2 separate regions of the Homo sapiens genome follow, and region 1 is linked to region 2. The links come from fine-mapping of genetic effects on gene expression. Tissue or cell type: atrial appendage. Region 2 holds a variant in brackets; the other region holds the start of a gene. All regions are shown on one strand. Distances are from middle to middle. Region 1 holds the start of PCDH15 (protocadherin related 15). Region 2 has its middle 42 kb from the start of PCDH15.

What was found. PIP is the estimated chance that this variant, and not a neighbour inherited with it, causes the effect.
Region 1: it holds the start of PCDH15, and the variant in region 2 is the best candidate, but not a certain one, in a credible set for the expression of PCDH15 in atrial appendage (GTEx, PIP 0.60).

The regions. Positions count from the first base shown.
Region 1 is chr10:54,799,877-54,802,813 of GRCh38, reverse strand. It overlaps PCDH15 (protocadherin related 15), which reads left to right and starts at 1,583. Exons shown (of 38, transcript NM_001384140.1): 1 at 1,583-1,889.
Region 2 is chr10:54,841,799-54,844,735 of GRCh38, reverse strand. It overlaps a transcript of PCDH15 not described here. Among named protein-coding and RNA genes, the nearest start is that of PCDH15, 42 kb to the right of the region's middle. The variant C/T (reference allele first, on the strand shown) is at 1,536.

The DNA of each region.
Region 1 (2,937 bases), 42 kb after region 2:
GAATGAGGCTGAATTGTCATTAGAAAAATAACTACACTTAATAATTCTTATGGTTACTGAAACAATCTTAAAATACCAGCTGCTCTATTCAACAAATATCAATATATGGATTGCTCCACAGGTGAGACATTTAGTGAAATGAACAGAAAAACTTCTCACACAAAATATGCTCATTATTTAAACATGTATCAATAAAGTTATCTTTATTAACACATCAATTTTAAAATCTAAAAATATCAGTTCTAACAAGTGTATAATGTATTCACTTATTACAAGTCCTCATTGACTCCCACTGATCTGTGGTTTTAAGGAAGCAAGTAATTTAGTTTGTTTCAGTGGTACATAAAATAAAAACAAATGGGTTCCACTTGAGGCTCAAGGGGTTCATCTATAATTATCTGATTTACTTCTACACGTGTTAATGTTTAAAATGTATAACACATTTGGCTTGCCTCAGATTATTTCCATATTCTTAAAGATTTTTCCCTCCCTCTGGAAAACTGAGCCTGCAAGATAAGTCCATTTTGTTTTAAATGAGATGTTATTTTCTGCAAATGCTTGTGCATAAATACGGCAACATTTCTGGAGGCATGGTTTTCTTTTTCTTCTTAGAGTTAATGTATCATCCTAGTAAATAATCCACATGGTTCATTAAGAAAACATGTGTTCTGGGGCTTTTGTCTGTGATAGTCTTCACCTGTCATTTTCAACCAGCCTCAGCCTATCTGCTCTGTCACAATCACTACTAAAATATGTTCCTAAATTGCTTGTTTCTAGATCCTTCCTTCTCATATGCTCAGGTGAACACATGGGTGAAATTTAATATGGAATTGAAATATGTACTATGCAAGATAGATTCCTTAAGAAATGTTTCTCTGATTTATATGACATAATTGTATTTTACTAGTTTACCTGTCCATCTGTAAAACTTTGTTTTGGAGATTTCATATATTACAATGTTTAAGAAATATGCTATAATGTTTTGTATAGTATATTTCTTCGTGATAACCTTATATACTACCAGTCACACGTGTTTGTAAAAATCTAAAGAGTACTTTTGGCTCCTACAGAATGTGTGAAGTTGTGAAATTGTTTTTTTGTTTTGTTTTGTTTTGTTTTTATGCCCCAAAGATGTGGAGGGCTTCATATAAGAGGGTAGATTTAATGAGAGAGAGAGGGAGAGACAGAGAGAATGATAAAAGAAGCTTAAGAGATTATTTTATCTTGTCAACGACATTGTTATTGAATGTAAGCTGCTAAACTTCTTAGATAAAGTAAAACAGTAAAAACAAACACACAAAACAGAACAGAGAATCATCAGACAGGCTGACGAACACAGTACAATAAAGCAGCCAGTACCGATGATCAGTGGACATCAATTTGTCTTTTGGGCTGTAGCACCTGCTACTAATTGGTGCAAAGCGCTCACCAGTCAGTGCGTGGTTTAGCGCACTCAGCTGTCTCCTGTATGTGCTGCGAGAAGCAAGATAGCTAATTGCTGTTGCTTCAGTGCCAGTGAAATCAACGTGCTGAGCTAATAGCGACAGATAGAGGGCAGACAGATTCCTGCTAGCAGCTTAGTGTTAGTTGCTTGTGGTAACTAAGGCAGGTGGCATACATCTCAGAACGTGGAGAATGATGGTATGCTTTCTGAGTTAACATGTTGAACTGTTTTGCTTTTCTAAAAATTTTCCTAGTAACATTTTCTTGATGATATGAGAGTGGATATCAATGCCTCACAGAAACAAGAGGTGGAACATGTGAATGAATCGTCTTGGAACTAGATTATGAGCACTGGTTCTTTTTAAAGGGATGTGCAAGAGGCAGCCTTGGCAAGAAAACTTGCTGCATAATCTTACATGGACTAAAGATGAAACTTTAAACCGCAAGTAAGTTCTTCCCCCGCCCTTCTCTTATTTTTTTCAAATTTAAGGCAGCAGTGAACCACAGAGAAAGTTAAGATGTTCTTTCAGTACAATGATCTCTGTCATGATGCTACTTTCTGTCATGCTTGTTGAAAGAATAGAGTAGTAATGATTGCAAGTGATTATTTGCTGGAAGAGTGAACACAACTGCCTGTCCTTTCATTCTTCCTGATTACTGTCTGGTATTGTAATTTTGTTTAGATGACAATGTAATCTTTACAAAGACACAAGCTTTTGAATTATAACTCTGGTTTGTTATTTAAAAGAATTTTTAGTCCTCAACCACTTCTTCTACTTCCTCCAACCTGAAAAAATACAGAAAAATGGCATCAGAATTGACTTTTTGTTTTTCTGTGTGCAAATATTGATGATTTGTTTTATGAGTGGTTGTTGCTGGAGGTTATAGTTGGCAGTTGAGTTAAAGTAGCTAATTCTGCCTCACAATGAACAGTATTTTTTGTCTTTTGTGAGTATACTGATATTTTTACTGTGGATGTTTTAGTTTATTAGAATATTTACTTCCTTTGTGCGTATCTGGAAGCATTAACCATTTAGAATTTGAATCTAGGTCAACTGTATCCTTCTAATACAGAATTAATGCTAGATAGTATTAACAGCTTTCCCACTTTGTGATGTGGCCTTTACTTTAAAAAATATACTTTGGTAGCTATAGAGTGGGTGGGCCCTGAATAACAAGTTTCAGGTTCAGTGTGTTGATACTCTGTGTCTCTAGTACACACAGATGGCCATCGATTTGATGGACTTGTAGCACGTATGCAGAAAGCCATTGTTAACTAGAGTATAATATGATGGCCTCCTGTAAGGTTAACTCCAAGTCATACTCATTTGCTTTCACAAAAGAGCCAATTGTCAAATCTAGTAACCAAATACTTAAGTTATTATGTTGCTTAACATTAGAGAAACAAATAATCTGTAAAAGAGGCATATTTTGAGCGCAAAATGCTTGCTGTGGTTTGCACAGCAGGTATGAAGCTTTGTTGTATATGCTCAT
Region 2 (2,937 bases):
GAGGCAGTGAGATTGAATTTTATTTCTGAACTTCTTAGTGTTAACAGTGTTTTCAGTGACTGCTGCATGTGGATACATATTTCTGAAAAATTATTAATATTCAAAAAAAAAGCAAAAGAAAACTTGCCTTTACTCAGGATGCACCAAATCACGAGTGAAGAAAATCCATCATAAATCCACCAAAGCAGGAGTGAGGGAAAGCATATATGTGAATCCATCCCATCAAAGCAGGAGTGAGGGAAAGCATATATGTGAATCCATCAAAGCAAGAGTGAGGGAAAGCATATATGTGTCAGCACTATGAAGGCATATGCCTAAATTTCTGTTTAAAAAGTAGGGAGAGTGATATTATATAAATAGCAGGGCTCCAGTTAACAAGGTAAGTTGTTCTTGAGTTCTAGCATCTCCTCAAAATGTACTGTATCTTGATTTTAACAAATAGTTTGTTCTTTTTCTCTGTCTCTGTCTCTCCCCTCACTAACACACACATTTATATTTCATAAAAAATAAGATTTGTGAAAGTATTACTGTAGCTTTCCAAGGCATCTGAATCATCACTAGCACCTCTTATCTATTTGTATTTGCCAAATGGAACTGGCTGTGTAGATATAATTAGCCTTCATCCTGTGGTTGAATGATGTGGACATACTTTTACCTCTTTTAAATCATGCCTTTCTTAACTCAGTAGGATAACACTGAAATATATAAGAAAAGTTATTTCAGCCATGCTCTGTGTTATATTTTGAAATGAGATTCTATGCTAAAACTATTTTCCTATTTTGATAAACAGTCACAAGACATGTTAAATCGTATTTTTGTGTTCATTGCCATTTGTCATGTATTTTCCAATTGCCATTTGTCCAATTGTTCATTGCCATTTGTCATGTATTTTCCAACTGGGGACTCAAAACACTGATCCCCGTAAGATGTATCAGGGAACTGTTCAGAAATTTCAATTGCTTGTCTAGCACTTTTACTACTTTTTAACTTTATTTACTACGTTTATTGAAGCAAACTCTTTTGACTAGTTTTGTCATGTTAACAATCGTCAAATTATCTTAATGAAATCATCTTAATGAAATTCACTCTATGTTATAAAATGTTAAAATATAAGAATTGAGCAAATGTATGATGTGTGTGTAGAAAAGCTAAATAACTATCAGAATATAAAGTCGACAAGCAAAATCTTCAATTTGAGTTATGTCTCTCAGGACATAAAAATAACGTTAAGTCAGTAAGAGAGTAAGTAAAGATCAAGTGTCAGCCTGTCAGACACACATAAATCACAATTAAGATGTTTTCTAATTATAAATGCATTTCTTGGCATTAAACTCCAGCTCGAGCATGTCAGAAGGAAATGTTAATATTCTGACCCAGAAGTCTGGCGGCATTAGATTTGCCTGATTGTTAAGCTTACATATTAATATAGGAGGTACCTTTGTTTGGCTCAAATCCCTCTCCCTTGAGCAGGATGCCAATTATTTTCCATGCCAATTTTTCAACTGCCAGGGCACAGCTTTACTTGTTCAGTTCTC[C/T]CTAAAGTTCATGAAGCCAAACGATACAACAACAATGAAAAGAATGCTTTATTAAGATTGACTTTTAAGGGCTTTCTGGATACTGCTGAGATACTGCTGAGGGTATGCTCTCAGTATTACATTTTGAAAACTATTTGAAATGTGTGTCAGAGCTCCTTGACCCTTAAAGGATCGTATAAGCTGGAGATGGACTATATTTCAGCTCTGATATCTTTGTTCTTTCCGATAGTCAGTTTTCATTACATTAACATACGATGACACTTATTTCTTTTTATTTTCCTCCCAATAATGCCTGCCTTCCTTTTCCTTTGGCAACAGCAAACCTATTTACCCTGGAATTTCCATATGAAAGCTGCTTGCTATTAAACACCTGTACTAGAAAACATAAGACTTTCATTATCCAAAAGATGCTTCAGTCTGTGTCCTAGAGATTTTTTTATATGAGGTAATACCATACAAAATAAAGTTGAATTTTACTGACTGTATACAAAATAAATAAGATAATCGCTGTTGTAGTTACATAAATTGGAGCAAGGATGTAAGCAGACTAACTACAAAGTCCACAAATACATTAAGATTCTTTGACTTTATATATAGTTGTAGCAATTTACATTATTCCTAATCTATGCTTACCTCACACATCTACAGAATATCTTAGTAGAATTTCAAAACATATTTTAAAATTAGAACCTTAGATGATTTCCTTATAGAATTTAATGACAAGGTTTCCTCCTGAGTTTTGAACCTTGATGGAGTAGCAAAGATTCATTGCTCTAAGAAATGGATGCAGACGGGCAGGTCACAAATTACTAAGTGTGAGTTACTAGAATCAGAGGAAATGATTTGAGGGAGACATTAACAAAAGATATGTTGTAGAAGAAAGGGTGCTAATAGTTAATAATTTTAACAATAGGTCTGGATGGAGAAAAAATAAAATTACGAAGACTCTACCAATTAAATCTGTCTCATTTATTCATATTCTCTCTCTCTCTGTCTCACACACACACACACACACACGCACACATACACACACTTTTCCTTTCTCTTTTCAGTAGCTTGACAGATTTGAAATTATCATGAACGTTTATGAATTTTGTAGTTACATAAGAGAATAAGTCCAATTTCAAGTTCCTCGATATAACTAAAGATCTTTATTTCCTATGATGTGATTTATTCTCTTAATTTGACCCTCTTCCCCCTGGAAAATAGCATATGTGCTTATTGAAATGAACTTAAGCAATACAGAACTAATATGGCATCATATAAAAATAAACATTGTTTATATCAGGTAATTATCAGTCTAGACATCACTATAGGCACATATGCAGGAAGAATAAGAGAGTGCTACAGATCTATCTGTTTAAAATGACAAATGTCTTCAAAAAATGATTGTAATAATATG